Linked DNA regions of Homo sapiens: region 1 is linked to region 2. A link means that fine-mapping ties the variant in region 2 to the expression of a gene that starts in the linked region. Tissue or cell type: fibroblasts. Region 2 holds a variant in brackets; the other region holds the start of a gene. All regions are shown on one strand. Distances are from middle to middle.

Region 1 (4,398 bases), 120 kb after region 2:
AAGAGGTTAGTCCCGCGAGACTTTAACCAGGATTTGCAAGCCAGAGGAAGGACAGTTCACATTAGTGTTTATGTAGGGTGGCAAGAATTGCAGACAAACTATATTTTTCACAAATCACAGTAAATACCATTATTAGTAGTAGCCTCAAATTCAGAAATTAAGTGAATATGGGCATAAAATATATTATCTTTACCTTGGTTAAGTAACACAAGTGGTTAAGTAAATGTTTTAACATTTGGGATGATTAAAAGATATTTTGGAGCACATTAATTTCAAGACATCTTGCTAAGCTCTCTCCTTACTGTTAATACATGTTTCAAAATATAGATCCGATACTAGTATTGTCTCAGTTTTAGGCGCACACATCCCTATCATGTTGTTATACAAAGATGATGCCCCCATATATGTCCTGGGGGTAACTAGATCACCCAAAGGTCTCTCTACCTTTTGAAAGTACCTCACTCACCCAGCTTTAAGTGACCAGAGATTCCACGGCTTCATTTCAGTAGCTAAAACATCCAGAAGCCTCTATTAAGATGCAAATACTTTTCACAGGCTCCTTTGAAGATGGAAAATAAATAAATACATAAATAAATAAAAATAAATTTTTTAAAAGATGCAAATACCTCCTGGGAAAGGTAACAAGCCATATCATGTAATTGTGCTCAATTCTCTGTAAGAGAAACTCTTCAGTTTCAGATACTCTTAGGTCTTAGGAATTGAAAGCTAAGATCCAGAGGATAAAAGGAGGAAGGAAAATTTGATCAAGAGGTGTATGGGAAAGGAGGTGGAAGAAGCCCTATATTATAGACTATAACAGTCTTTATATTCTACAGATCATCAAAAGTTCTGATTGGCCTTTAACCCCTTAACTTTCATCCCAATGACACACCCAACACCCACACAATGCAAACCAAAACTAAGACGCACAGAAAACTTGCAGAGTTAAAATGCACTGGTGCCTTGCTGTCTTCCATTATCTTACAAAATGGCAAAACTGCAAATGTATGCTTTTTAAAAAGCCAACTCAATGACTGTGTCCAATGAAGAGCCACTGACGTATGAGAGACATTAATAATTTTCTTTCAATATCACTAAACTAGCCTAATTTTATCTTTAAGACAAACTCTTGATTCCCCCCTTAAGGGCTTTTTTAGTTCAAACTATTAATAGACACAATAAATTAAAAAAAAAAAATTAAAGTCCCCAACATCTTCCTAGGAGCATTACACAACGAGATGACTTTGAACGACTTTCCTCAGGATATATTCCAGTGCCCTGTAGAGAACTTTCCCCATCCCTGTAGACATGTGAGTAAGTAAAGAACACCTCAAGAACAAACTTTGTTGGCCACCAGCAGGGGAGCTCTTCAGCTTTTGTCCCCAAATCCATTCAAACAAAAGAAGCTCCGACTCCTCCAACCCACCCTTCGGACCCGCACCCCGCGGGGACTCTCCAGATGCGGGTGTCCACTCCCCCGCCAGCCCTACTTACTCCTCAACGCCCCAATGAGCAGAGAGCCGTCCTTAATGAGCTCCTTGATGAACTTGTTGGTTCGCTCCAGCTCAATCTCGTGACACTGCAAGCGCTCCCTGAAATCTGGGCTGTCCAAGTAGGAATCGCTGAACTCCAGAGTGGGCAGCCCCATGGCACAGGCGCTGCCAGCGGCGGCCGCGGACACGTCCGGGCCGGAGGTCAGGGCGGGGGCAGCCGGCGGCCGCGGCGGGCGCTGGGGTCGCGCGATCGCGGGGAAGGCGCCGGGACGCGAGGGGACTGATTGCGCGGAGGAAACGGGCCCCGAGCGCCGCGCCGCCTGCGCCGGGCTCAGTCTTCCTCCCCCGAGGCTAGGCGAGCGCAGGCGCGGGCGGCGGGCCGAGGCGCGAGTCCCCTCAGGTTGTTGTCATCTGGACGCATCGTCGTTCGGAACGCGGGGGCGGCGAGGCTCCGGGCCGCGGCCGGAGCAGGAAAGTTTCTCTCACGGCGCGCAGACACTTCCGGCAGTTCCACTCCCCAACTCTCTTGACAGTCGTCGGCGTTGTGAGCCAGAAGCAGCGCACAGCCGCAACTCCGGCCGGGCTGGGGAAACCCTCCCCCTCGGCGGACGCAGGCTCAGAGCGCTTGCAAATCGCACCCGGGCTCCCAGACCCTCCTCCCCGCCGCCGCGCTCCCACCCAGCGCCACCCCGCCCCTTCGCCCCTTTGCCCTCCTGCCCCACCCGTCCGCCCGCACTGGGCTCCAGGGCTCCCCGCGCTGCAGCCCCGCGCTTGCGCTCCGGCCTTGGCTGGGGTGTTAGCCCTGTCCCCTCTTGGGCCCCTGGTTTCGGCTAGCCCTTGGTGACACTTCGGGGTCCCTCGCTCCACAAAAGGATCTGACTCCCAATATACCTCCCCTAACAGTGTCCCCTCCACCCACTCCCTACAATTCTCTGGGAGAAAAACCAACGTTAAGTTTCCCTAAAGTCTGAGTATTTTGAAGCGTAGATGGAAGATACTACTGTCTAGCGTTCGTTTAGATTTTACTTCACACTTCCCCACCGAATGCATTTGAATTCCACGTTGAAAAATTGTCCCGTCGCTCTCCCACCCCTCAGCTTCAATGATCCAGCCTGGAGGTGTTTCTTCCCCCTGCCCCCACTCCATAGCTGGGAAGGTGGGACGATTTTTCAAGTCATCCTCACTCTGCTTACGTGCTCCTACTTCTAGTAGAATACCTATTTGCATCACAATAGTAGTATCTCCTATTGGCACCTGGATGGAATTGTCCTAGGAGCGGGAAAATTTTCAAATTGTTGAAGTGGACTGGAGTTTGAAATAAATAGTTAACTCCTACCCACAGGCTTTATCCTTCCTCCGGTGGAGGTTCACCTAATAAATTTCTGTTCTCTTAAAACCTTGACAGCAAAAGAAACGACTGCTTTACATCTCGTCCTGACATCATCTATAGGATTTCTGAGAACTCGGATATTGTTCTTAAGGATCTGCTTTTAATTTCTGCATTTTCATTGCTTTGTCCATATGAACCATCTGTTTAAAAACTATTCTACAGATCATGGGAAAAATTCCACTAAAGTGCTTTACATTTTTCCCAATTAAGTTTCAGAGCCAGTCAAGATTCTTGGTTTCAATTTTTTAAATGTACAGGAACATTAAAAATAACATGTAAACCTAAAACAGATAAGATAATGTAAACAGTATGGGCCAGGCGCAGTGACTTAACGCCTGTAATACCAGCATTCTGGGAGGCTGATGCAGGAGAATCACTTGAGGTCAGGAGTTGGAGACCATACTGGCCAACACGGTGAAACCCAGTTTCTACTAAAAAATACAAAAATTAGCTGGGCCTGGTGGCGCACGCCTGTAGTCCCAGCTACTTGGGAGGCTGAGGCAGGAGAGTCACTGGAATCCGGGAGGCGGCGATTGCCATGAGCCGAGATTACGAGATTACTCCACCGCACTCCAGCCTGAGTGACAGAACGACTCCATCTCAAAACACCTTCCATCCATATTCACATCTTTGGCCCCATATTGGCAAAATGACCAGTCACTATTAGAGCCATTTTAACTCCAAGTGTTAAATTTGTTTTTGTTAACTAAATACTCTTCAATTTTTTTTTTCTTTTGCAGGTTTGGGGAAGGGAGAGGCAGTAATTCTGTTTGTCAGTTAATGAAATGACATGACATAAACACCAGTGGACTGTGTCTCACCAGAGGTGATTTTGTATTTACTCATTACTCTGCCTGAAAGACAAAAAATCACCCAGGCCAAACAGTTTCCTTTCAACTTTTGCCATGTTGCTGTTCCTATCAACTGAATCCAGTGCCAAACTGCTGAGATACGAAACGATAAAATATAACATTCTCTTCTTGTTTTTCATTAAATCATCGTACTGTGATTAAGTCTTTAAAAATGCATCATTGGTGTTTCATAAGTTGCATTTAATATGTTGGATGTCAATGTTTAGTTTTCTTTAAAAGTGTTACATGCCAGGGCAGATGTATTGTACATTCTATGATACAGGTTATCATTTGCCCATTCATGTATGTAATGATATGTTTTATGTCTACTGTCTACATTACTAAGGTCTGGGTGGGGAAGTGATTTCTATAAAAAGACAGAAGCATTATCCGTGACCTCAAGCAGTTCTCAGAAAAAGGAAATGTGGAAAATAAGTACCCATAAAGCATAAGGCAGAATATGCTGTGTTCCACAGCCTCACACAGATGCTGTACTAATAATACATTGATGCTATTGTTTATCAATATGTTTCCACTCAGGCCCATCATTGCATTTACATGGAATTAGGATTTTTTCTCCTACCCTTCACTCATGATTCCCTAAAGTTTATCATGTTATAATGGGCTTATTTCTTGTAGGTGTTTTCATAGTTACTCATGCTTA
Region 2 (4,398 bases):
GCAATCTACATTTGATCAATGAGCAAATCCTCTTAGTATCACCTGCAAAATAAACCTAGCATCTGAACACTTCTACCACTTCCACTACTTTCATCCTGGTGCAAATTATCATTGTCTTTTAAGTAATGAAATAACGAAAACAGCCTCCTAAGGGGAGCTCAGCACACAGTCTTGTCCTCTACAGTCTGCATAACAATTAGGGTAGTCCTTTAAATTCCTAAATCAGTTCATGTCACACTTCTGCTGAAAGACCCTTCTACAGAGCAAAAGTCTAATTCCTTACAAGGCCTAAAGAGTCCTACATATTCTTCATAATCCCCCCGCCCAATCAACCACACTTTATCTCTTCCCACTTTCCCATTTGTTCCTGTGCTTTAGCCATATTTGCCTATGCTCCTCCTCAAACAGTCCGAGCACTTTCCAGCCTCAGGACCTTTGTACTTGCTGCTGTAAAGCTGTCTGGGCAACCTGAAAAGCATTTTCCCAAGAGAGTTGTAAGACTGACTTCTTTCTTTGTCAGGTCTCTGCTTAAATGACATTTACTCACTGAGGCCTTCCTTGATTTCCTGACATTAAAAACTCACCTACAGCCCCCTCTGCTACCTATCCTAGTTTATCTCCCTTTTTCCAGAGTATATATCACCATCTGATAATACATTTTGACTTTCTTCTTTGTTATGTCTGTTTCTGCCAACTGGAAGGCAGAAGCTCTTTTTGACCAGAGTTGTATTCTCAGCTCTGGAGCAATATCCAGCCCAGAGAAAGAGATTAATAAATATTTGTTGAAAATAAATTATTGCTATCCTTTCCAACTACTTCTGGGTATAAAATCCCATAAATTTCGTCTGTTTTGTAAATAAAAATGAAACTATGCTATGGTCCACCATCCGCTTTGCTATAAAGTTTTCCAAATCCTACAGTTTACAGCTTGTGTCTTTAAGCAAAAGATATAAGCAGAACCTGGCTGAACCTATTATTAATGTGTTCACTATATGAAGGCTCATTCATTCATAAGAAACTGAAGAGAGGGACAGGCACGGTGGCTCATATCTGTAATCCTAGCACTTTGGGAGGCCTAGGTGGGAGGATTATTTGAGCCCAGGAGTTTAACACCAGCCTGGGCAACATGGGGAGAGACCCCATCTCTATGAAAAGCAATAAAAATATAACATTAAAAAATTGTTTTAAAAAAGAAATTGAAAAGAAATCAGTTTTTGGCAGCAGTTTTTAAGTGTAAGCTCCATAAATGAGGTAGTGAACTCAGGGCTAATCATTGACACTGTTCAGCAAAGTATACAGTCACAGAAGACAATCAAATCAAGACATCCGGGCTGGGCTCAGTGGCTCATGCCTATAATCCCAGCACTTTGGGAGGCCGAGGCAGGCGGATCACTTGAGGTCAGGAGTTTGAAACTAGCCTGGCTAACATGATGAAACCCCATCTCTATTAAAAATATGGAACTTAACCAGGCGTGGTGGTGCACTCCTATAATCCTAGCTACTCAGGAGGCTAAGGCAGAAGAATCACTTGAGCCCGGGGGAGTTGAAGTGAGCCGAGATCACACCACTGCACTCCAGTCTGGGTAACAGAGCAAGACTCCATCTCCAAAGAAAAAAAAAAAAAAGAAAGTCAAGACATTCGAGGCAGAAGCAACATAGATCACCTACTCCATGAATTCCCAAACTCTAGTCATTCACATTCTACTTCCGTGATTTTGGCCATGGCCATGTCCTACATTTTTCCTTATAAATGGATTTACTTCTTTTACTAAGCATCCTACAAAGCAACAATTTTCATTAAATCCAGAGTTGTTCTGTATCCAATACACATTGAAATAAATATGGAACTACTAACATTTAAAATGTTTATTCTGGCCAGGCATGGTAGCTCGCGCCTATCATCCTAGCACTTTGGGAGGCTGAGGTGGGCGGATCACCTGAGGTCAGGACTTTGAGACCAGCCTGGCCAACATGGTCAAACCCCATCTCTACTTAAAATACAAAAATTAGCTGGGCGTGGTGGCGCATGCCTGTAATGCCAGCTACTGAAGAGGCTGAGGCAGGAGAATCACTTGAACCCAGGAGGCGGAAGTTGCGGTGAGCCAAGGTTGCACCACTGCACTCCAGCCGGGGTAACACAGTGAGACTCTGTCCCTCCCCACCAAAATAAATAAAATAAATAAATAAATAAAATGTTCATTTTATTGCTGGTGGTTTTCATTTTACACTTTGGGAAATGCTGAACACTCCTCATTTATAAAAAAAGAAAACAAAGTCTCAAGGAGCTTAAAACTTTACTAGATGTCAATAATTAATTAGGACCTAGACTTTCCCAGTTTGTGTTCTGGTTTCCTGCTGATCCTGAAAACACATGTTATTTTATTTGCATCACTTACATAGTATTCTGTTACCTGTGGTAATAGAAATAATTCTGTAGGTAAAATGTAAAGTGAATAGAATTAAAAGTCTCAGATGGGAGGGGATATTTTATTTTCCCTCAATAGAAATAAAGCAACTACTACGTAGCACAGTTTTTTTTCCACCAAGGCAGTTAGATATGGTTATGCAAATGAAGAGTACATCATTTTTCATTTTTCAAATAGCAGTGTATCTGCTGTTGAAAATATGTGAAAGATACAAAGGTTTGG[C/T]AGAAGTTTGGAATGTAAAAAAGGTAAGGTTTTCATACGGTGGCCACATTTTCCAAATGAAAAAAGGAAATACACTAGCTTCAGGACCAGCCGGTGGTTAACCACTACACTAGTAAAAACAAGTTAACCAAATTGCTATCAGTTGAATTATTACAGTAAATTATCTTGTCTAGTATAGTCAGGGGAAAAAAGAATGTTGGTTAAAACCATTCTTTTGAACTGACTCATTGATTGGTTTTCTGTTTATTTAGTTCCCCTTTACTATCTTTATATTTTTTTTTAATTTTACACATGTAAGTCCTGCACATCCTTTGTTTAGTTATCCTTGAGTCTCTTATTTTTTTGCCACTTTTTAAAGGTTCTGTTCAGAAATATAATTAATTTACATCTATTAACCTAGCTAACCTCTCTTATTTATCTCTAATAATTTATAGATTATTTGCAATTTTCTATGTGGAAAATCATATCATAATATGACAATTTTGTTTCTTTCATTTTAAGTCTTAGATTTTTATGCCTCTGGCTTCTCTTTTTTTTTTGGAGACAGAGTCTTGCTCTGTCACCCAGGCTCGAGTGCAGTGGCACAATTTTGGCTCACTGCAACTTCCGCCTCCTGGGCTCAAGTGATCTTCCCACCTCAGCCTCCCAAGTAGCTGTGATACCATGCCCAGCTAATTTTTGTATTTTTTGCAGAAACAGGGTTTCACTATGTTGCTCAGGCTGGTCTCAAACTTCTGGGCTCATGCGATCCACCCACCTTGGCCTCCCAAAATGCTGGGATTACAGGAGTAACACAGCACACCCAGCCTGCCTCTGGTTTCATATTACTGAACAGACTAGAGGCCCTCCAAAACAATTTTGAATTTAAACAGTAATAGTGTACATCTTTGTGTGACTCCTAATTTTTAAGTAAATGTTTCTAATGTTTGAGTGAATTAACATGTTTCTAAGTCTTGTAAAATTTCATACACAACTATCATAGTATTCTGTTCAAATGACAATGTTAACCGGAAATTTCTCAAGGTCATTGCCATATTACAATAGACAAGAGTTGGAGTGATTGCCTAACTCATAATAATTCCTTTGTTTCTGAAAATAGCTCTATATTCAAAGGAAAGTCTATGCAACATATTCTGTCCCTTTAACCTTGGGTAATTGGTCAAGCGTCTTTAAGTGACCTTAGCTGGGCCAATCAGAGCCTCTCCTACCTTTCTTTTTTTCTTTTTCTTTCTTCTTCATCTTGTCTTAAAATGAAAAACTAGACAATCCTATCTAGAAACAATTTCTGTGAGTTTTAGTACAATGCTTATGACTCACCATGTGGAAGAAGCCAGCTAACAGAATGAGGCCGATAAGCAAATGAGAGGCAAAGATAAAAAACCTCTTAGAGGCCTTAGAGTTTGTGATTCTGGCTGTTTCTTAATCCCACAAGCAATGTGGGCCCTCTCACAGATAAATGAGATGCCCCAATGTCTTTCCAACCAATTTCCTGTTTGACTTGCAAATGAGTATCCTGGGTGACACACAGATAAATCACAGGATGAAGTAACATAGCATCTTGATAAGAACCCCTAAGAGTTAGGCTTTTCAAATTATGAATCCTGATTCCAGGAAAAAGGGAACATTTATGAATAATTTGTTATTTTTAATTACTATTATAACAAGTAAAATGTAATGAACTATTTACTATAATTTTATGAGGTATTACATTGGGAGAAATTGTCAGTAAAGAATACACCCGATTTCTAGT

Direction of the effects. Positions count from the first base shown, and alleles are read on the strand shown. Sizes are in standard deviations (SD) of each study's normalised expression.
For the expression in fibroblasts of the gene that starts at base 2,039 in region 1, allele T in region 2 goes with a higher level than allele C (small effect, 0.19 SD a copy in GTEx).

What was found. PIP is the estimated chance that this variant, and not a neighbour inherited with it, causes the effect.
Region 1: ARHGAP42 starts here. The variant in region 2 is fine-mapped to the expression of ARHGAP42 in fibroblasts (GTEx, PIP above 0.99).

What each region holds. Positions count from the first base shown.
Region 1 is chr11:100,684,929-100,689,326 of GRCh38, reverse strand. It overlaps ARHGAP42 (Rho GTPase activating protein 42), which reads right to left and starts at 2,039. Exons shown (of 24, transcript NM_152432.4): 1 at 1,495-2,039. The coding sequence starts at 1,648. ARHGAP42-AS1 (ARHGAP42 antisense RNA 1) reads left to right here and starts at 1,372. Exons shown (of 2, transcript NR_133571.1): 1 at 1,372-1,694; 2 at 3,624-4,398. RefSeq lists enhancers at 1,275-1,644, 1,965-2,014, 1,728-2,438 and silencers at 1,665-1,834, 2,135-2,324, 2,375-2,669.
Region 2 is chr11:100,808,731-100,813,128 of GRCh38, reverse strand. All of the region lies in intron 3 of ARHGAP42 (Rho GTPase activating protein 42), which reads right to left. Among named protein-coding and RNA genes, the nearest start is that of ARHGAP42-AS1, 120 kb to the right of the region's middle. The variant C/T (reference allele first, on the strand shown) is at 2,649.